Regions from separate parts of the Homo sapiens genome. Here all the other regions are linked to region 1. The links come from fine-mapping of genetic effects on gene expression. A gene starts in region 1. Each other region holds a variant in brackets. All regions are shown on one strand. Distances are from middle to middle.

The links. PIP is the estimated chance that this variant, and not a neighbour inherited with it, causes the effect.
Region 2: its variant is the best candidate, but not a certain one, in a credible set for the expression of TAF1A in testis (GTEx, PIP 0.83).
Region 3: its variant is the best candidate, but not a certain one, in a credible set for the expression of TAF1A in fibroblasts (GTEx, PIP 0.64).

The regions. Positions count from the first base shown.
Region 1 is chr1:222,585,957-222,593,888 of GRCh38, reverse strand. It overlaps TAF1A (TATA-box binding protein associated factor, RNA polymerase I subunit A), which reads left to right and starts at 3,956. Exons shown (of 11, transcript NM_005681.4): 1 at 3,956-4,162; 2 at 5,324-5,446. The coding sequence starts at 5,326. TAF1A-AS1 (TAF1A antisense RNA 1) reads right to left here and starts at 3,969. Exons shown (of 3, transcript NR_110613.1): 1 at 3,927-3,969; 2 at 3,482-3,631; 3 at 1,256-1,723. RefSeq lists enhancers at 2,923-3,455, 3,456-3,989.
Region 2 is chr1:222,550,122-222,558,053 of GRCh38, reverse strand. It overlaps a transcript of TAF1A not described here. Among named protein-coding and RNA genes, the nearest start is that of HHIPL2, 6.0 kb to the right of the region's middle. The variant A/G (reference allele first, on the strand shown) is at 3,840.
Region 3 is chr1:222,625,292-222,633,223 of GRCh38, reverse strand. It overlaps MIA3 (MIA SH3 domain ER export factor 3), which reads right to left. Exons shown (of 28, transcript NM_198551.4): 4 at 2,835-5,649; 5 at 898-1,059; 6 at 1-120. Among named protein-coding and RNA genes, the nearest start is that of MIA3, 11 kb to the right of the region's middle. The variant G/A (reference allele first, on the strand shown) is at 3,640.

The DNA of each region.
Region 1 (7,932 bases):
CTGAGTAGCTGGGATTACAGGTATGTGCCACCACGCCCAGCTAAATTTTTTTTTTTTTTTTTTTTTTGTATTTTCAGTAGAGACAGGGTTTCACCATGTTGTTCAGGTTGGTCTTGAACTCCTGACCTTGTGATCCACCTGCCTTGACCTCCCAAATTGCTGGGATTACAGACGTGAGCCACCATGCCCAGCTGATTCTATTTCTTAAAGGGAGAAGCAACATGCACATACAAGAATGTGAATACTTTTTGACAGCTATTCTTAAAGATAATTCACCACAAACAGGAAGGAATGAAAAGAACTGGAAATAGCAAAATGTAGGTAAATACACAAAAGGTAATATATACTTTTCTTCTCTTAATTTCTTTGCGATACATATGACTAAGGCAAAAATAACAATGTGCATAGATATGATATATATGACAACAAAGCACAAAGGACTTGGGGAGGTGGTAAGTAGAACTTTACTATTGCAAGGCTCTTTTATTTTACATGAAGTATCATAATTTTAACTCTAAGGCTGTGATAAGTTAAGAATGTATATCATAATTCTCAGAAACACTGTAAAGCAATAATGCAAAAAGATACAGTTAAAGCCAACAGAGGAATTAAGATGAAATATAAAAACATTAATTAACCCAAAAGAAAGCAGGAAGTAAAGAACAAAGGAACACAAAACTGAATGGGACAAATCGAAAACAAATAGCAAAATGATAGACAAACTCAACTATCTGTTGTCTATAAGAGAAGCACATTAAATTAAAAAACACAGGTTGAAAGTAAAAACATGGATAAAAATATACCAGTAAACAGTAAGCTAGGAAGGCTGCAGTGGCTATACTAATATCGGATGAATTAGACTTCAAGATAAGGAGTATTATCAGCAATAAAGACATTTCATAATGATAAAATGGTCAATTCATCAGGAAGACACACGAACCATAAATGTTTATATGCCCAATAACAGAGCTTCAAAAATGCAAAAGAAAAGCTGACAAAACTAAAGTAAGTGGCAAATTCACAGCCATAGTTTAAGTTTTACACTCCTGTATCAATAATTAATAGCAACACTACACATAAAACAATCAATACAATATAGAAGATCTGAAGACAACTATTAACCACCTTAATCACGTTGACATTGATGGACACAATGCTCAATAACTACAGAATACATATTCTTGTCTAGTGCTCACAGAACATTCACCAAGATAGACTATATTCTGGGCACAGTAAGTCTCAAAAAAATTTTAAAGTATCAAAATTTCAGAGTTTGTTTTCTAACCATGGCAGAAATAAACTGGTAATTTCCAATAAGACTAGTCATAAAAAAGATAGAAGATGCAAATGATCAATGTTTGTGTTTCATTTATCTATTCCTATGTAAGAAATCACTGCAAACTTCAGTGGCTTAAAATAACAACCATTTTATTGCTCACAGTGTTGTGAGTCAGGAATTTGTGTAGGACTCACTGAGAACAGCTCATGTCTGCTCCATGTGTTGTCAACTGGTCTCACTCATGTAGTTAGATTCAGCAAGTGCCTGATTTAGGATACACAGTCTGAGATGAATTTCTTCACGTGTCCGAAACCAAGATGCTGACTGTTGGTTCCATGTGGCCTCTCTTTCCATGTGGTCTTTCATACTGCAAGAGCTCTTTCTTCACGTGGCCACTGTCTCCAGCAGGATAGACTGGTCTTCTTTTTGTAGCTGCTCAGAGTACTGAAACATGAAAAGAAAAAAAAAAGAAAAAGGAAGAAAAACCTGTGTCTTTGAGGATACAGTCCCTGGGGTGGAATTCTAGCCCATGTATTTTGGTTTTCTCTATATTATTATCTGAGATGTTTTTATTTTTATGCTTTCATGCCACATTCCTTTTTTATTCTCGTTAGCTGTGATATAGGATAGTCTATTTATGATGAGGTCTCTTCAACTGTTTGGCTATGTGAAGTTTGTTCTTTAATAGATTGCACAGGAAGCGTTCATGGAAATAATATTCCTTAAATGACAGTTTGCAACTTTAAAAACAACATAATTCATCACCATATTAAGTTGCTCTGTAGCACAAAGTAATTGTAAGAACATGTTTTTCTTAGGACATGTTTTCTTATAGATTGAAATCTAGAAAAGTCTTTGCATGCTTTATGTTTTCATATTTGTCATGCCTTTTTTTTTTTTTTTTTTGAGACATGGTCTTGCTATGTTGCCCAGGATGGAATTGAACTTTTGAGCTCAGCGATCTTCCTGCCTCAGCCTCTGGAGTAGCTGGGACTACAGATGCCTGCCACGGCAACCTTCCCTCCTTCCTTCTTGTTTATGCTATTGGATGTGATCTAGTTGATTTTTTTTATCTCTTCTCTCCAACACATTTTCTGTCAGAATTGCAGCATGGGAAAGAAAAAGCATAGGTAGGGCACGTTTCCTACTGCTCCTTAGAGCTGTTTGAGAACTTCGAGGAAAATCTGAAAGCTCTTCCTCATTTTCGGGAGAACATAAACTTTTTTCCATGTAAAATCATTTCTGGGCTGGTTTTGGTGAATTTACACCTCAAGCCAATGGGAGAAAAGTAGCCAGACTAAGCCTCTAGACAAGAAAGTAATGATTATGTATGTTATTTTGTGTGTGGTCTCCTGGACTACGCATAATTTATGTTAGCCCTGCCTGTAGAGTTAGAGCACAAGCTTGAGTGAGGACTCAAGAACTAATGACAGAGAGAGCAGCAGAAGGAACTTTTCTTGCAAGTCCTTAACTACTGCATATTGTTTTATGCAGAAGACAACATAGAATCAACTATTTGTAGCATTTTAAGGAATCCATGTACAAAATTTTTTTTGACAGGGTCTCATTCTGTCGCCCAGGCTGGAGTGCAGTAGGGTGATCACAGCTCACTGCAGCCTCGACCTCCCTGGGCTCAGGTGATCCTCCCACCTCATCCTCCCGAGTAGCTGGGACTAGAGGCATGCATCATCACCCCAGCTTATTTTTTTTTATTTTTATTTTGTAGGGACGGGGTTTCATCATGTTGACTAGGCTGGTTTCGAACTCCTGAGCTCAAACTTTCCGCCTGCCTCGGCCTCCCAAAGGGCTGGGATTACAGGCATGAGCCACCGCGCCCGGCCTCAAACTCTTACCAGACCCTTTAATTTCCTCTCCGATACTCCGATTCTACTCAAACTGTTCACCTACACAGAGGAAACTCAGTGATTCCTGGGGGAGCCTATGCTATATTTGTGCATCCTCATTTGTGGACAAAATTCTTTCTTGCTGTGACTTGAAAGCAGCCTCCCTTTACCTTTCACTTATTAGTCCTAGTTCTGTTCTCTGCTGCTAAGAAAAAGGGTCTGATCCTTCTTTCACTGATCAGCCCTCCAAATATTGGAGAAGCACACTGCGTTTCCATGGGCCTGCAGTCCTTTTCCGGGATCATCTTCCCTAGAACCCCTCAACTGTCTCTCATTTCACACGGTTTAACCATCTTACCTTTAACCCATATTTCATTTGTTTGTCTCAATGTCCCTCATGAAAGTTGACCCAGACGGGTCCGCAGAACAACTTTTGCTGAGAAGGCAAAGGAAATTCTCGCCCAAATTGTGGAGAAGGCAGTCGAACCAATTAAACCTAAAGCTAAAACTGTAATAGAAAAGAACTTTCAAGCTCGCAATGAAAAGGCTATGCATGGATTTATCTCATCACAGCCACTAGCCACACCTCCACTCGTGCAGTGCGCCTGCGAGCCGAGCAGAAACCAATGGCCCATCGTAGTGAATTTCTCGGGTAAAGTGACATTCTCCGCTTTTGAATGCTCCCTTCGCCCAGCCGCCAACCCCTCGCCCCAATTTCCATTTTAAATGAAAGTCTCCCACTTTCTAGCTGAGACAGACAAAAATAAAACTCGGGCAAAACCAATCGCAGAGAGGCAGCTCACTGTCACTTCCTGGGTCACTTCCAGAAGTCACTTCCGGGGTCGAGGCGAGGCCAACGATACGCCTGCTGCAGCAGGAGGAGTTACGAGCCGGGCCGCGCGCTGCCTAAATACCTAAACCAGGTTTAGCGCCTGCTCATATAAAGCTCTCCTAACTCGTCTTCCGGTGGGAATTTCTTCACGTGGGCCGGAGTCGGAGACTGAGTTTAGCTTTACTGAGGAGCTCTAAATTTAGGCGGGTAAGTGCCGCAGATATCGCCCGTGGTTCCTGCGTTTAAATGGAACGGGAAGGGGTGTGTCAGGATTCATCCATGTTCTCCTGATATTTCCTCCTAATACCTGAAACCCTTGGGGTCTGAAAACGAAAGAAGGGGATAGAGAAGCTTTGGTTGCCGTGGCAACTGCGGGTCACCAATTTGGGTTTTTGAGGATTTGGAAAGGGAGGATTTGTGTAACTACTCCTGAAAACACGTGATGGGTCGGATTCAAATTCAGTTGTTACTTATAATTCATACTCCTAGCCACATGCTTTGAATTTAGAAGGTTTACTCTGGGTATAATGCAGAGATGCAAAATCTGAGCCAGGGTAATTGTTTAGAAAGCTGATGCGGTAATCTAGGCACTGTTTGAAGGGGTCTTGAACTAGAGTAGTGCTGTAGGATTGAAGAGGGGAAATAGGGGAAATTTGGAGGTAGTATCAGGGGCACTAATACTCGATTTCATATGGGTAATGAGGAAGGGGCCCTGAGCATCTTTAGGAGTAAGTCTAAACTCACCTTGGCTTATGATGATTTTTCTAGGTTCGTTTCTCACCTTCCGCACCCCTCCTCCACACGCACCTCGAATTCTAGTCATGCCAAGTAGTTTGGTGTTCTATTTCCTAGACTATCGTCCTCACCATTTTTTGTGATGTTAGGCAGGTTCCATCATTTCACTAAGCCCCTCAGTTTTTTCAACCTTCACATGGAAGAAAGTAATAGTACCCACCTCAGGATTGCTGTGGGGATTAAATTAGATAATTTATACTTCTAGTGCATAGTAAGGGCCTAATAAATATTAGCTGCTACTTCTATTCTTACTGTACTTTTCATATTGTTTTGTTATTATACGTTTTGCTGTTTCTTCGTCTAGACTTGAGATTTTTTAAATTAGAGGGGCAGTATCTTATTTATCTTTACATGGACTTGAAACATTAGTGGTTCGGTCTTTAATGGATCATTCATTTTGGCTGTTGCTGACATAGTTAAATTCATTTTTTACTTTAAAAGAGCTGACAGGTATAATGCATTTTGCTAATCAAATTATATTTATTAGATAAAAAGATAGCCGTTTTTCTGTACAACTCAGAAGACTGTGGATTAAGATGTACAGAAAGTAACTGATATCTCATCTTGTAATAGGTATGAGTGATTTCAGTGAAGAATTAAAAGGGCCTGTGACAGATGATGAAGAAGTGGAAACATCTGTGCTCAGTGGTGCAGGAATGCATTTTCCTTGGCTTCAAACATACGTAGAAACTGTGGGTAAGTAAAATAATAACATTGAGCCATTTTAACTTTAAGGAGGTGGTAAGATTCAATAGGGATACAAAATGAATAACCAGACTGGTTTAATTTTCAAGAGGAATATGTGGAGGGTTTTTTGGCTAAAAGCCAAAAGAAATCTTTTTTCTTTTAGAATTCTTTGCCCTTGGATTAATAATAGATAGTCTGTATTATGCTAGATACACATTTTTTCCAGTAATACTTACTGAGCACTTTTATCTCTGGCATTGATTAAATATTGGGGAGTCATAGGTGAAGATATGGTCTCTGCCATTGAGGAAAACATGCCTAGGAAGTGTTCAAGAAGTTGCTGTTGAATTGCATTGAAATTATTTCGAATAGAATTGATCGTGTAATAGATTTTTTTTTTTTTTGAGACAGAGTCTTGCTCTGTTGCCCACGCTGGAGTGCAGTGGCTAGATCTTGGCTCACTGCAACCTCTGTCTCCCAGGTTCAAGTGATTCTACTCAGCCTCCCGAGTAACTGAGATTACAGGTACCAGCCACCACGCCTGGCTAGTTTTTGTATTTTTAATAGAGACAGGGTTTCACCATGTTGGGCAGGCTGTTCTTGAACTCTTGACCTCAAGTGACCTGCCCACCTCAGCCTCCCAAAGTGGTGGGATTACAGGCATGAGCCACTGCACCCGGCCTAGATAAAAGAGCATTTTCCCCCATTTTTATCTAATGTAAATGCAAGCATGATTTTCTATGGGATAAAATTTCCCCCATTTTTATCTAATATAAATGCAAGTATGTTTTTCTATGGGATAAATTCCCTATAAGAATATATTTAATATAAGTATAAATAAAAGAAGCTATTATCTGTATGCTGGCATATTGAGTGGTATAGTCCTGGGATTACATTTGAACCAGCATTTTACTTACTGCCCTTAAATATGTGTTTTTTTGCCCAGCCTTTTCTCCCCTTGACAGAGATTCCTTGGCTCCTAAAATTTCGCTTCCATTTTTTTCTTTTGATCTAAGTATCATCCCATTTAATGATCTCAGTAAATTCTCAATAAATTTTTATGCTAGGCAGTTTAGGTAGGATGAAACTGAATCTCAAAGACATTAAACTCTTAAGTGGTATCAGGAGTCAAATCCAGGTTTGTCTGATCTCAAAGCTTACACTTTTAACGACTGAGATGCATTTTTAAAAATGAGACAATATATGTAAAGTACCTAGCATAGTATCTCATGCATAATGAGTGTTGAAAAATAATAGTGCCTTTCCTCTCCTCATTTTATTTTTGCTAGATTAATGCACATGGCTTAAGGCAGATTTGAATGAATGATACTTCAGAGGTAGTGCTACCGCATCCCTGGTAGGGAACAAACTAGTAATTTAAATTTCCTATAGTTAAGTCATACTTGGGTATGTTTCTGTTACCAGTGTTCTATAGAAAGTCTGAGTCAGTCTGCAAGCAGATAGGTTTAAGACCAAAGACCAAAATTTACATGCTTAGGAATATTTTATATGTCATGGATAGCCTGTTAAACCGAAAATACTTTTGGTCTGCAATGAGAAAATACTTGCAATTAATATTGACATTGTGCTGGTAATTAACCATAATAGGAAAACAAAATTGCCTAACAATTGTTCTATTTATTTTTTATGCTGGTAGATATCTTTTGGCTTTTTGAAGGGCATGCCCAGCAACCCCCTTAGAATAAAAACTTTGAAGACAGGGCCAGTCTGGATTGAAGCTGTATGATGAGTACCTGCGATAGTGCTTGGGACACAGTGGTGCCCAAAAAATACTTGTTGACAGATTGATAAGTTTCCAGATTCTTTGAGTAGCATATTAGAAGTTAGGTTGATGACACTAGTTCTTTATTGTACATCTCTATTCCATGTAAAAATGTGTTTTCCTTGACAATTTTTTTTTCTTAAAGTCATCAGGATCAAGTAAGACTATCTTTTGCTCATTAAAGAATGAAATGAGAGGAGAACTTTTCCTGAGGTAGCTAGGCTAGGTTGGAAGACAAAAGTATTTTCCAAACATTTAGGTATAGTTATCTAAAGTCAATTTATAATCTCAGTTGTGAAAGCTTGAGCGATAGAAGGGAGCTTAGCCTGAGAACAGTTCTCTCCTTTAGGTAAATAAGGGATGTTTTAAGGACGAGGTGTTTTGTCAGTTTCCTAGGCTAGCTGGCAGGTATTGCCACTGATGCCGAGCAGCTTTGGTGTAGATCTTATAAAATGCAGCTTCTGATTGAGAGAGCTGGGCATAGTACTCTGTAGTTGTAATGAGATTCCAGGTGATACTTCTGCTGCATGCCAGGACCACATTGAGTAGCAAGGGCAGGTCCCCAGGTGATTTGTATGTACATTCAAAAGTCTGAGAACACTAGTCTAGCACAGTAGTCTTCAAACTTTTCACTTTTGTATCCCCTAGTTTTTTCTGAAAAATTGAGTACTACCTTGCATAGTTTTAAGGAATCATCTGAAAAAATTTTATT
Region 2 (7,932 bases), 36 kb after region 1:
AAAGTAGCTGGGCGCAGTGGCGGGCATTTGTAATCCCAGATACTCGGGAGGCTGAAGCAGGAGAATTGCTTGAACCCGGGAGGTGGAGGTTGCAGTGAGCCGAGATTGCACCACCGTACTCCTGCCTGGGCGACAGAACTAGACTCTGTCTCAAAAAAAAAAAAAAAAAAAAACAAAAAGACTCTTTCAGTATAAAGACATGACAGTTTGGGGCAAAATAACCTCCTGCTAGAGAGAGACCTTTGACTCTAGAGGACTAATTTGGGTCATAGCAGTAGAGTGGGCTGGCTGTTTTCAGCTGGCACTGGCCTAACTTTAAAGGGCTCGGCTTTTTTGGTGCCTGGCACAGCAGTCTAAGATCATGAGGTCAAGAGATTGAGACCATCCTGGCCAACATGGTGAAACCCTGTCTCTACTAAAAATACCAAAAAAAAAATTAGCCGGGCTTGGTGGTGCGCGCTTGTAGTCCTAGCTATTTGGGAGGCTGAAGCAGGAGAATCGCTTGAAACTGGGAAGCGGAGGCTGCAGTGAGCTGAGATCATGTCACTGCACTCCAGCCTGGTGACAGAGCGAGACTCTGTCTTGGAGAAAAAGAACTCACGCATCCCCTCTCCTTTTTCTCTTGGAAATGAGGATGCAGCGGTATTTGACTGGACACTGGAGGAAACTCACCGGTGGGATAGTGTCCCTGAGTCACACAGTAAACCCATGGGGAAAACCTGGCCAGAAGCCAACAGCAACTTTCCTGGAACATGAGCTGAGCTTTATAATATGTTGGAATAATTGGTAGAATAAGTGCTTCTTCAGAAATGTCTTGGCTTTTACATTTACTGCTGGAATAACTAGTAATTGAGTTCCATGAAGACTCACTAACTTCAGAGCAAGTCTAATATTTAGATGGCGAGACACACATTTCCCTTTGGCTTATAGTCCTACTAATTCTAAACCATCTGCAAGAAGGTTAGGGGGCAAATTGTGCTTTGTCAATAGTTTATATTTCAATATTACTTAGTAAGAAAGGTCTATCAATAAAGAAGCACTTAGAAAGTACATGTAAAATGAGTAGGTGTTCCACAGAGCCAAAATAAACCAAGTTAAAGCTTCCACATAAATAGGGAGTCCATAATTCGGTTGTGTAGGAGTTCTGTATAAGACCAATACTCTAGCAATGAAATTCCCAGACGATGTGGAAAAAATCTGAAAGCATAGGCCAAGATCTACTTCCTGAAACTTTTAGTCAAAAGCTATAAAACAGGACTATGATTTCTCTTGATCTCTAAGAAAATGGAGGTGAGAATAAAAGAAATGAGTAGTTTTGATTCTTGGTTTCCATACAAAGCTGTCTCAACATTTTTACATCAAATGTTCTTATCAAATGTTCAGTAAGAGTAGTGCAAGTCACCTGTGAAACTTTTTTTAGGTCCACTGATGTTTAAGCTGCTTCCATGAATAACAGTAATAGCTAAAATTGGGCTTTACCTTTCATTGTAAAACCACCACAGTCCTATGAATTATTCCTATTTTACCAATAAAGAAAATGAGGTCATTGGAGATGAAGTAACTTGCCAAGGTCACAGCTCATAGGTGTTGGCACCAGGATCCCAACCCAATCAATGTGGTTCCAAAGATCACACTCTCATGTAGTATCTGTATGGCCTCCCAGTGCAGTCAGTGTTGACTACATGCAGAGAGCTGAGCCAGGTGGTGGAGTGAGACAAAGCAGCAAAAAGAACCCAGGTCTGCTCATTTCTGCCTGCCAGCATCATTTCACAAAGCCCCTGACCCTGTGACGACATGCAACTCTCTGGAAAGATGCCTTGAAGACAAAACAGGGCACAGGGCACCCCCACATCGCTTGCCTGAGTCACTACATTCCTTAAATGACCCCAGTCCTTGCCTTTTCTTACACATGAGATGTCTGATGGGATTAGTGATTATGCTTCTGTAATCCATAACCAGATGTACTCTTACACCTAAACCTTGATGAGATTCTGCTTGAATGTAACTTTTGAGCAAGTTTGATGTGATTTTGCACTGTACTGAACCCTACCACCTGTATATAAGCAGTGAGCTGAAATACTGTGCTGGAACAGTCTGACAGGACTGCTTGCTTATATGGTTACTACTTATAACCATTCGTCACGACTATTTTAAGACACGTTAGCAATAACTAAAGATAATTTAAAGTCTTGTTTTCTCCTTGAAACCTCTGAATGTATATATTTAGGATGTACAACCTGATGTTTTGATATACATTCTGAAATTATCACTATAATCAAGCTAATTAATATCTTCATTACCTCTACATAATTACCATTATGTATGTATTGTGTATGTATGTGTGATGAGAAGATATAAGATCTTTCTTAACAAATTACAAGTATGTAATACAGTACTGAACTGTCATCACCATGCTGGACATTGGATATCCAGAAATCGTTCATCTTGTATCACTGAAACTTTGTACCATTTGACCAATATCACTCCATTTCCCCCTTCCCTCAGCCCCTGGCAACCATCTTACCCTCTGCTTCTATGAATTGGACTCAGATTTCACATACAAGTGAGATGATCGTGCAGTATTTCTCTTTCTGTGTCTTGCCTATTTTAATTTTGCTCAGCATAATGTCCTCCATGTTCTGAATGGCAGGATTTCTTCCTTTTATAAGGCTGAGCAGTATGTAATTGTAATTTTATAAACCCTATCTTTATTCATCAAAGGACGTTGAGTAATGCTGCAATGAACATAGGAGTGCAGATATCTCTTTGCAACCTTGATTTCAATTCTTTTGGGTATATACCCAGATATTTCTATTTTCAATTTTTTGGGGGAACCTCCATATTGTTTTCCATAATTTACATCCCCAACAGCAGCATACAAGCGCTTCCTCTTCTCTTCATCCTCCCTAGCACTTATCTTTGACCTTTGATACGATTCATTCTACCAGGTGTGAGGCTGTATCTCCTGGTTTGATTAGCATTTCCGTCGTGACTGGAGATGTTGAGCACTTATTCATATACCTGTTAGCAATTTGAATTTCTTTTGAGAAGTGTCTATGTAGGTCCTTTGCCCATTTTAAAGTGGAATTATATTTTTGTTATTGAGTTGTATGAGTTCTTTCTATATTTTGGATTATTAGTCCCTAGCTGATTAATTATATGGAATGTGAATTACATCTCTGTAAAGCTGTCAACACCCCATTCCCTTCCCACCTCCCCTCATAAAAAGAAATAAAAGAATGTTCTATGGAGTCAGAAAGGTCTGGGTTCAAATTCCAGCATGACTGAAGCCCCCCACCTAGCCTGGGCCTCACCTTTATTCTGTAAAATGGGATGGTCTGGAAAGGTTGATGTAAAGTGCTGAGCATGGGTCCTGGTAAATGTTTTTTCTCAATAAATAGAAACATTGTTTTATGTTAACATTTTTGAAAAAGGAAAAGCAACAAAAATTAAAAAAACAGATAGGTGTGCCCTTTTGGACCCAGTTATTTACCTATATTTACAGCACAAGGGCTTTTTCTGCTGGATTGAATTAGAATCTTTGTATTTTAAATATTCCAAAAGGAAACAAGCAAGACCTTTGATGGATGGTCTACAAATAATATGACTAACATCTGAATAAGTCAATCCAAGATTCATGCTTCTAAACCAATCTGCCACCAGGTAAGAGTCGACTCAGTCCCATAAAAAATACGAAGCTGACTTCTATGTTGTTTTCATAGTTATGAAGGTAGCCTTTAGCTCAGTGAGTAGAGGCGGCTCTTTGTTTCCGCCCGTCAGTCCCATAGTGATACCACTGCCAGTTGTTTAATTACAACTCCCCTCCTGCCTATACCAAG[A/G]ACTCCCAGATAATCTTATCAATGGAACTGAATCTTCAGTCAATACACTCTTCAGTAGGCTGCATCAGACAAATTTTTCCAAATGAAGAACAAATAAAAGTGATAACTACTTTCGTTCTTTTTGGGTACATCCTGATGGAATGAAAAAGATCTGGGCTGTAATTCAGAACACCTGAATTGTGTTGCCATCTCTATTCATCTAAAGTGGGGCCCTAAAATATTTCACTGAACCCCTCTTGGACTTCATTCATTCATATGCTCACTGGTAATATATCTACCTTGCTGACTTAATTGTCTTGAGAGAACTGAAGATCAAATGAAATGCAGTGTGGGGAAATACTTTGTAAACTGTAATGCTTCGTACAAGTGAGTTGTTATACTTTCTCTAATCTGAGGTACAACCTGTTCATCTTTAGACTGTGACAGAGGGAGTCTGAAGGCAGATAGATAGTTACATCAGTAAACTATATGAGAAGCTACTGAGCTAGAACATTTCTTTTTATATTTTTTCTGTTGTGTTCCATGACCTGATTTAGGATAAACACCTGACTCTCAACATCACTTTTTAAAAGGCACTTGCACTGGACATGGTGGCTCATGCCTATAATCCCGGCACTTTAGGAGGCCGAGGGGGATAGATCACTTGAGCCCAGGAGTTCAAGACCAGCCTGGGCAACATGGTGAAACCACCGTCTCTACAAAGAAAAAAAAAAGTAAAAATTAACTGAGCGTGGTAGCACACACCTGCAGTTCCAGCTACTGGCACTCCAGCCTGGGTGACACTGAGACCCTGTCTTGTGCGGGGCGGCGGGGGGGATGTTAAAAGGCACATGCTATATGAAACTGTGTGCGTGTGTGTGAATGTGTGTGTTACTGCTGTGGGCTGAATTGTGTCCCCTAAAAAAGAATGGTTGAAGTCCTACCCCCCAGTACCTCAGAATGTGACCTTATTTGGGGATAGTTTTTACAGAGACAATCATGTTAAAATGAAGTCATTATGGTGGGCACTAATCCAGTATGACTGGTGTCCTTATAAAAGGGGAAATTTGGACACAAACGCACACAGGGAGAAGGAGCACCATGTGAACATGAAGACAGAGCTTGGGGTGATGCATCCACAATCGGAATGCAAGATTGCTGGCAGACCCCACGAAGCTAGGGATCAGGCATGGAGCAGTGTCCCTTGCGGCCTTCAGAAGGAACCAACCCTGCCAACATCTTAATCTCAGACTTCTGGGCTCCCGAGCTGTGAGACAATACATTTCTGTTGTTTAAGCCACCAAGTTTGTGGCTGTGTTAACAGCAGCCCAAGCTAATTTTTTAAAGGATTATGTTTGCTTCAAAAGTGGAAACTGAAGTGATTTCAGATACTCTGTCTGGTCCTAGCTTATAGTTTCAGAGTTATTTTATAAGCTCACCTAATGTTCAGTGAAAATGTCTTTTCTGTTCTTTTCCATCTATAACTTATCTAAAAGCTCCAGTCAACTTTCATTATGATATTCTTAATCCCCTGCAGCCGAATGTCATCTCTCCGTCCTTGGGATCCCTAATGGCAGTTTGTTCCTCCCTTACTGTTACCTTAATCTTATATCTGCCAGTATTATTTGGATACTTTCATCCTTTTTTCTCAGAGCATAAACTCCTTGAAAAAGTTTGTTTTATATGTCAGTTTTCTGTTAAACATTTCTATTCCAGCATAATACTTCACACAAAATAGTATGTATTTACTGAATTGACACCAAGACATCTTTTGTAAAATTATTGCATGATTATTATATAATTACATATATATGTATATAGACAGAGCCTCGCTCTGTCACCCAGGCTGGAGTGCAATGGCGCAATCTCTGCTCACTGCAACCTCCGCCTCCTGAGTTCAAGTGATTCTCCTGCCTAAGCCTCCTGAGTGGCTGGGATTACAGGCACATGCCACCACGCCCAGCTAATTTTTTTTTTTTTTTTTTTTTTTTTTTTTTTTTTTTTTTTTTTTTTAGTAGGGACAGGGTTTCACCTTGTTGGTCAGACTGGTCTCGAACTCCTGAACTTGTGATTTGCCCACCTCGGCCTCCCAAAGTGCTGGGATTACAGGCATGAGCCACCATGCCTGGCCATAATTACATACACGATTATATCTAAAACGTAGTATCGTCTGAAATGTTACATATTTTAGTAATCAGAAACTCATGCTGTCACTGTCTGATCAGATTCTGCCCGCCCATCTTTCCCTGCTAATCTTGCAGTGACTCTGCTCAAAACAATAAGATCTCCATATTGTTCACGACAAAGGGGAAATCGATACATAAATGTCATGAGAAGATCAGAAAATACTCTCAGGTCCTACCTGGATGAGATAATGCACTCATTCTTCCATATCCCAGGGTTTGATGGTTCTGAGAAGGCAGTGGGGGTGAATTCACTGGCTGAAATTAGTCCATGTTACTCCTCCTGCTTAAGGCTTCCAGAAGCATGACATTCTGTGACATTTGAGCAAATAACCCAGAAGAAATAGCACAGTCAACAGTGAATCATGGATGACATTTATTTTATTTTAATTTTAATTTATTTTGAGACAGGGTCTCACTCTGTCACCCAGGCTGAAGTGCAGTGGTGCAATCATGTCTCATTGCAGCCTTGAACTTCTGGGCTCAAGCAATCCTCCTACCTCAGCCTCCTGAGTAGCTGGGACCACAGCCATGCGCCATCACATCTGGCTAATTTTTTATTTTTATTTTTTTTTCTAGAGACAGAGTCTCACTATGTCGCCCAGTCTGTTCAAACTTCTGGGCTCAAGCCATCCACCCACCTCAGCTTCCCAAAGTGTTGGGATTATAGGTGTGACCCATGTTTTAAAAAGCACCACTCAACTAGGTATATTATATATATATATATTTTTTAAACAGAGTCCCACTCTGTCACTCAGGTTGGAGTGCAGTGGTGTGATCTCGGCTCACTGCAGCCTCCACCTCCTGAGTTCAAGTGATTCTCCTGCCTCGGCCTCCTGAGTAGCTGGGATTACAGGCGTGTGCCACCACACCCAGCTAATTTTTTTATATTTTTAGTAGAGACAGGGTTTCGCTATGTTGGCCAGGCTGGTCTCAAACTCCTGGCCTCAAGTGATCCACCCGCCTCAGCCTCCCAAAGTGTTGGGATTACAGGCATGAGCCACTGCACCCGGCCAACTAGGTGTAGTACTGAACAGTACAAATAGGAAAGCAGGACTATTCTGATGATCATTCTGACTACTCCCTCCTATCTATCTATCTATCTATCTATCTATCTATCTATCTATCTATGCATCTATCTTTCTGCCTACCTACCTATCTACAGGATCTTCCTGTGTCACCCAGGCTGGAGTGCAGCGGTGTGATCACAGATCACCACAGCCTCGAACTCCTATGCTCAAGCAATTCTCCCACCTTAGCCTCCCAAGTAACTAGGACTACAGATACACGCCACCACACCCAGCTAATTTAAAAAATTTTTATAGCAACAGGGTCTCACTATGTTGCCCAGTCTGGTCTTAAACTTTTGGGCTCAAATGATCCTCCTGCCTTGGCCTCCCAAAGTCCTGGGATTATAGGCATTAACCACACCTGGCCAATTTTGTTTGTATTTTAAATGCTATTTGGGGCTTTCATAATCCAGAACATTGTGAGTATAGACTTGGCTAGACTGAGGTTCACTGTCCCTTCTTGATGATACCCTGGCAAATACTGTTTCTGGCGATGAGTTGGGCAGCCAGGTAGGGCACCCTCTGAAGCAGCACATCTGGAACAAGAAGAAACTTGGACTTCATCTGCGTTTCAAACAGAAGCTTTTGCCAGTAAGGAAATTCAAGGTGGACCAGAACCATGGAAAATGCTGAAAGGAGAGTTAGCTCAAGTGCCAAATGTCCCCATTGGCCTACACCTTGGCTCATGCTTGTTTGGGTTTGGGGCTGTGTGAGTTTGGGACTCCTGTTCTGCATTTATTCATTCAAGAAATATTTATCAAAGCCTGTTATGTGCAAGGGATGTGGACAAAGGAAAACACGTTTTTATTTTATTTTATATTTATTTTATTATTATTACTTTTTGAGATGGAGTTTCACTCT
Region 3 (7,932 bases), 39 kb before region 1:
AATATATTAGAAGGATTGCGTTTTCCAAAGGTGTGACACTTGCCGGCTCTTCGGCGGCTGTCTCTGGTTGCTTGTTTGCATCAATAGCATCCATAGGAGTGTCTTCTGTTGTAACTGGCCCTGGAATTGGGAGGAAAGATAGACATTTTGTGCTTTAGAATAAGAATTCTCTTTAAAAAATACTTATTGAGTATCCACTAAATATTAGGCACTGTGCCTGGAAAGTAAACGTTCTCATCTCTCACTGGATGTTTACTGTGCACTGTGGTGAAATACTCTTTGTGTCGGTCTATCCTGGACTATTACACACTACAGTGTTCTGTACTGTCTCCTATGAGCTTATGCTATAAACATACTTGGACCCCTTCACTGTATTTTAAGAAGTTTTACTTACCATGTCCAGATAGCAAATCAAAAAAAAGAACTGCATTGCATTGTATTTTATTTGGAAAGAGAGGGGTAAAGTAGAGGAAAAACAGAATTTGTGAGTTTTAGAGCAGTGGTTCTCCAACTGTAATTTGCATCAGGTCAGTCTTTCCTGGAGGGCTTGTTAAACACAGATTGCCGGTTCCACCCCCAGAGTTTCTGATGCTGCTGGGCTGGTTGAAAACTACTGTTTTAGAGCATAAGGCCTTTTAAGAATAATATTTTAGATTGAAATAATTTACACAAGATAGTGACAGCCAAACATTGGTTTGTAGGTTAGTTATAGTCTCTGGTGTCTTTCCTATTTTTGATCTCCATCTGTCTTGACGCCTGCTTTTCTCTCAATTAGCTCTGGGATCCTTTTTTCCTTTGAATTTAACAAGTCTCTAGCTCCTGCCTTTGACAATGAATCTCCTAGAAGGCCTTCTTTATGATTTCTCCACTTTGTAGAAAAAAATTAGCAGGCTTTACCTGGGTCCAGGTCTTTCTCAGTATTTGGCTTCTGTGACACTTCTGAGGCATGAGTGTCCCCAATCACACGTTGGTCCAAGTGGGTGGGTTCTTCAGGAACCTGCACATTAAGTTCTGCTGTCTTCTCTCGTGAGAAATTATCTTCATGCAGTGGTTGCATCTCTAGGGTGAGAAGAATACACTGGGCTAGCACAGCTTGATGACACTACCTGTTAGGCTAATCCCACTGACCACACCAGGGCACCTCAACATTGACCTCCATGCATGGGCATCCCATGGAGCACAACTGGGCAGGGAAATAAGAGTTTCAGTTTCTTTTATTCCATTTAAAGGATGACTAATCTACATAATAAAATCTACAGAGGAGTATTTCATAAATAAATACATTTATGGTAGGGACTTCAGTAACATCTTTCCTTGGCAAATCAGCCTACACCCACACAAATAAATGTGCAAATGAGAATTCCACTCAAGAGCAGAAATGTGAAACATCTATTCTGCAGAGAAGTAACATGAACTCTTGCATACCCTAGCATGCCTTTCTCACAGAACTAGTACAGACAGGGACATTCCACGCCAAGGCAGCTTGCTGAGATGTCTTTCGAATACTTTCAAAGTACCTCTAAGAGTCAAACAAAGTGAAGCCATCTCCTCTCCTAAGAGGCTTAGGGGACAGTCCAATGTGATCCACAGCAAAGGTGAATTTCCTTGTAGCCTCATATTTTACCCTGAAAATTCATCTGAATATTGCCTTCTTATCCAAAATATATGTTTTAATTAAATGCAAAAAAGTTCTCCTCCCCCATTTCTTAGGAAAAATTAGCACTCTGGAGTAATACGTTTTCCTGTGGCTTCCTGTCCCCTTGGTACTCTCAATTCAGATACATCTGTCTGAAAAGCCTGGATATACCAGGTGCGGTAGCTCACACCTGTAATCCCAGTACTTTGGGAGGCCAAAGTAGGAGGGTCACTTGAGGCCAAGAGTTCAAGATCAACCTGGGCAACATACCAAGACCCTGTCTCTACAATAAATAAAAATTATTTGGGCACAGTGATGCATGCCTGTAGTCCTAGCCACTTAGGAGGCTGAGATGGGAGGTTCGCTTGGGCCTAGGAGTTGGAGGCTGCAATGAGTTATGATCATGCCACTGTACTCCAGCCTGGGTGACAGGGTGAGAGCCTGTCTTAAGAAAAAAAAAAAGAAAAGAAAAAAAGAAAGAGGAAGGAAGGAAGGAAGGGCAGGTGGGCAAAGGGAAAGAAAAGAAAAGAAAAGAAAGAGAAAAGCCTGGATGCAGAGAATAGAACAAGGAACTAGGAATCAGAATGCTTATGTCAGGATATTGGCTCGGGGTTAATTCAACTGAATGGCTTCCACGCATCAAGCACTGCATTCGAAGGCATCCCTGTCCCAATCTTGATTAATCTGCATGCAAGAACCTTACGGCCCAGGAGGGTTTAACTGGAGTAAGTGCTCCCAAGAAACAGGAAGAACAAGCCATCCACAAAAGATAAAATTGGGGAGAACGTAGGAATTTAGCCAAGGCATTGATCTAAAAGTTATACCAGTCAATCCATGGTTACAGAGCAGTTATCTGACGACTGAAAAATTGTGTTCAATAAAACCCTTTCATAATTTTACATGACATTTGTATTTTGTATATTACTTTCTGGTTTATATCTTTCTCTTTAGCTTTTTACAAAGTTTCCTTTTGAAAATGCTAACCAGTCTCAACTATTCTAAGGGAAACGGCAAGAAATTCTTCTCCATGCTCCAGCCTAAAAGAAAGATGGCAGGAAGGAACATGTGGACCTCCCTGTGTTGTCCCTCTCCTTTAGGCACATTGGAAACTGAACAGAGCTTCACAAGATAGGAGGCACCTCAGCGACCCACCCACCTGCTTCTCCAGCCCTGTTCTACAAGGCCATAGGCATCTCACCTTCCATTGCTCCACCCAAGCCTTCCTCTAGAGGTGGTGCCATCACCAGTGTGGCTGTCTCCTCTGCTGTGGAGTGCTTGTACCTGACAAAATAGATGAGGTCTTGAATGTCATCAAGCACTGCAGCCTCTTCAAATATGTTATTTTCGTTCATTCCCAGATCTCTATTTTCAGCCACACGAGTATCAAGCATTTTTTCTGCTATGCTCAGAATTTGTGACTCAGAAGCACGGAAGACCTTATCTAGGACTTTTTCCATATTATAGGGCAGGCTCTCCTGCTGCGCTGACTTCAGTTTTGATGACATTTCTTGTAGCAAGGCTTCCAGCTCATGGACATTAAAGTACTTCTGGAACCGCTGCAAAGACTGTTGTTCTTTAAAGAAGCTGCTTATGATAAGTAAGTCCTCCCTCTTGTCACTATGCCCTGGCTCTACACTTGTATGTGGAGTCCAGTGGAACGAGTCATCTTCAGGTTCTGCAGCAGCAGACCCCTGGCTTTCTGTGCCCATGTACTTCTCTGTGTTCTCATGGTCCTCTTTTGAGAGTTCTCCCTCAGGCTCCCCTGCAAGCCCTGAGGTCTTCAGATGTTCCTCAGGGTTGTCGTTCTTCAGATAATCAGAATCTTTATTCTGAAACACTTCACCTAATTCTGGAGTCTGAATTTTTATGCTGTCAGAAAAGTCACTTCGTTCAAATGGTCTCTGTGCTTTCTTATCTGCCAGAGGGCGTTCTTTTTCCACCATTGTATTTGGTTCCCTGCCTCCTGTGTTGACCCCTTTGGCAGCAGTCTCACTTGTTTTTTC[G/A]CTATCCAAAATCATACTAGTTTCTTGCTTGCTTTCTTCAATTTCTGGATCTGGATGAATGGTCCCTAAAACTGCTCTGTCAGGGACTTGCAGATTAACATCAAACTGCCTGCCCTGATTCCCAGGGTTTTTTTCTTTAGACCGTTTTGCATTTATAGCGTTTTCATCCTCTAGTAGTTCTTCAGAGGGATAATCATCCTCTTCTACTTTAGAAAGGAAAGCTGGTCCTCCTGTGCTGTCAGTTTGGTCTGTCTGTCCTACCTCTGTGCCCTGCATTGCCTTGTGATGAAAAAACTCTTCATCCAAGGAGTCCTCTTTGGCTTCTCCCTCAGAGAGCCTTATCTTCTCACTCATTTGCTTACTGGCTGTGGCAGCCACATCTCTTTCTTGTTGCCAGGGAAGATTTCTTCCCAGAATGGGAACCTCGTCTTCCAGTTCTCTGGGCAAATCAATCTCATCTGGAGAGGAGAATCTAGGTTGGTTTTGAGTTTTAAGAACTAATTCCTCTTTCAATTCCTCACGTTGATGCTCCACTGAAAGCGTGTGCAGTTTGGCCCCATTTACCAAAGCGTCTCCCTCCACACTGTCTCTGGATGCGTTAGGGTGGTCATCTCCCATGAGTGGTGCACTACCCAGGGATTCCTGTTGAATCTTTCTGTCATTCATTTGATTCCCTGCAGCTTTCTGTGCAGATTCACTCTCTGAGCCACCTTCCAAAATCTGCTCTCCAGGCTTTTCTTCGTGGAGCATTCCTTTTGAGATATGAATAGCTGCTCCTTTTAGGTCATTTTCTGTATCATCATAAGCTGATTTTAATGTGTCTTTACCCTTTTCAGCAGCTGGCATAGAGTTGAGGTTATTGCTGTGAACAGAACTGTGCACAGTCATGCCTTCTTGATTTTCATCCTCTAATTCTGTCTTATCTTGTACCAGGCCCCTCTTGGATTCCTGAACTCCCCTCCCTTTTCCTTTAATGTGATGTTCTGCGTTTACTTCTTTGTCATTATTTGTTTTAGGAATGTCTACAATAAAAAGACCATCATCTACATTGTCAGGGTCACTATAATCTGTTGCTGACTGTGGTTTCCCCTGTTTGCTATCTGGGACTAATGCATCATCATCATCTTCTTTTTCTTCCTCTGAACTAGAGCTCTCTAAATCCATCGTATCTCTTGTTTCTTCACCTCCTGTGACAATAGAGAAGATAGTGTCCCCCCAGGTTGTTAGTATATTTTTATCATCATTTTTGATGCCAGGGGGCACAGTTAGCTGAACCTTGTCCTCTTCATTTGAATTCTGCTCTTTATCTGTTGGATATTTCTCAACGCCAGACTTTGCTGGAGTTTTCATATCTTCCCCATCTGTAAAGGTAAGTAATGGCAACTCATCAAAGTCTTCTTGGTTCTCCTCATCTTCCTTTCCAACTGCATAATACTCAGTATCCAATTCCTCATCAAAATCATCTTCTAATGAAGTAACGAGTCTGGTTGTCTCATCATCAGATACAAGTGCATCAGCTGTTGAGCCAAATTTGGTTTTCAAGTCTAGAGTCATTTCTTTTTTCAAAAGTTTATAGGCATCAATCTTATCCTGTTCATTTGAGACCTGAGAACTATTGCTGGTTTTGTTGTTTTCACTTTCTGGCACTTTTAGTTTATCTTGCAGCATTTCTTCAAAAGATTCAAATGAAGCCTGCTCTCCCTGAGCATGATTTGCTTGGCTGTTTGCATGGGAGTGGTGCTTCTGAGTTGTAAACTGTTCCTGAAGATCCTCAGTGTTTTCTGAGAATACACTATCACTTTCCTCTGAGTTGGCTTCTACTGGTTCAGGTTCAGGTTCCCTTTCCTTAGATAATTCAGGGTTTTTTTCCATATCCTGTAAAGTTTTTTCTACAGCTTTCTCAGAATCTGTAGCTGCAGAATTGTACAGTTCCAAAAACCCTAAAAGTTCTTCTACATTATAATTATGAAAATCATCTCTTCCTCCATCAAAACAAACAAAATCCGTCTCCTGTAAGAAAAAGAAAAACATTAGTCTGTCAATAGCCAAGTGTCACCAGAGCAAAGTCTTATCCACGTTAATGATTGAGATAATCTCGAATTCACGTTTGGCTCTAGAGGAGCTTTTGCGTCAACACTGGGCACTGACTGTTCTTGGGCAGTGGGTGGATAGGAGGCTGGAACCCACTTTCCCATCTGAGTAATACTCCTGGCTTCCCTTCATTCTCTCTTCCCCAGGGGAAGAATGATTCATGTGGCTGGTGAGTTTGCTCAGTCCCAATCCTGTTTTCTGTTTGGGACCTGCTGGAGAGGAAACACATATTCTGTTCCTCCATGCTGTCCGTTTTACAGGGACAGTCCCACCTGGGGAGACCCCTATTGGATAGCTCTGTCTGTGACTGGATAAGTCCATCTTAGTTTAGACCGCAATGTTAGAAAGCCCATTATTTCTGCATACTCCAAACAGCTTTATCAGTAAATAATGGGGTCATTTTGATCTCCTATTTGCCCAACTCCTGGGTCTCTCAATTTTGTTTTGAGCACAGGTGGGGAAAAGTAAGGTGTCATTTATTGGGTTCCCCAACTCCCATCATCTATGCCTGATGTTCTGGGAATTCACCTTATAACCCATCCAGGAGGAGCTGAAAGACCATCAGCTTCTCTACATTGTGCCCTCTATGTCATACTTCTCTGCTCACCCAGTCAGAAACAGGCAGAATCACCTGGCTGTCAGGCTCTCAGTCTACATGGATTTGGGGCTCATATTTTCCTTGGACTGGGAAAGAAATCAGCTTCAGAAGGAACTTACTGAGATACAGGTGCATGAGATATAAAAATGTAAGAGAACAAAGAATGGTGTAAAGGAGGCTCCCCATTTTCATACTGCCACAAGAACAACTTGAAAACAAGATTCAGTAAGGTAGGTACCTAACTCCAAATAAGGATTCTAGCCAGTCACTAAGATCTGCTTTCAGGACTGTCAAGTAAATCTGTATTTTTCCCTTCCTCCACCAGTAAGCAAATTGACATACAAGGAGCCATAAAATGATGGAAAAGTTAAAAAACCAACAAAGATAACTTTCTTCCCCTAACTAAACATTCACAATCTTCTGGTGAGAACTGTCCTGTGTACTGGAGATGAATGACTTCCCTCTTTCCATCATGCACACTTCTGAGCCAATTTTTTTAATATTAAGGGAATCATGCAGTGGGAACTACAATTAGTATACAGGTCAGGTCTCTGTGACCAATGAATTGCTGTCTCACACTCAAATCCCGGGCAGTCTCTTCATCAGGAGTGAAGCCAAACAGGCAATACGATTGACTATATAACCCCTGAGAGCGTCGAGAAATTTTAAGCATAGCAATAGCTCTGTGACTTCACTCTGCCAATCTCTTCTAAGAACTGCCCTAGCCCAGCAGCTTGCACGCTCTGCAGCAACTCCAAAGAGCTACTCAAAGACTTTTGAATGAAAGCAGACATCAATTACTATAAATTCTAAAACTCACAAAACAATCAGATGGGGGGCTGGGCATGGTGTTTTTTATATATATATATGAAAGGCAGCCTGTAATCCTAGCACTTTGGAAGGCCAAGGCAGATGGATCACTTGAGGTCAGGAGTTTGAGACCAGCCTGGCCAACACGGTGAAACCTCGTTCCTACTAAAAACACAAAAAAATTGGCTGGGTGTGGTGGCAGGCGCCTGTAATCCCAGCTACTCCAGAGGCTGAGGCAGGAGAATTGCTTGAACCTGGGAGGCGGAGGCTGCAGTGAGCTGGTATCGCACCACTGCACTCCAGCCTGGGCGGCAGAGAGAGACTCTGTCTCAAAAAAATAATAATCAGATGGAATGCAGATTCTAGAACACAAAATCCTTCTAGTCACGAAGCCATTGTGCACTATAGATAAATGCTCTACAGAATGTGTAGTTAGCGCCTTACAGATATGAGACTGGACCTCACCTGAAACTCTCTGGTTCCCTTTTCCAAATCTATAACTATAATCGCTTAAATCACTACAGAGTCAATAATAAGAAAACCTTTGTAAGTTTGCATTTCTGGCTCAGTATAAAATTAGAGCTTAATTAATTTAACCTGATTTCTATATCCTTAAAATGTCTAACAGCTATCCAATAAGTAGTTTTCAAATTTCTCCTTTTGCTTGTGAAATGAAATTTTTTGCCTTCTAACATTAATAAGTAAATATAAAACTACTGAACTCTTAATTTTTCACATATAAAGCAGCAAAGAAAAGCCTTGTATAAGAGTACACGGCCTTGGCCGGGCGCAGT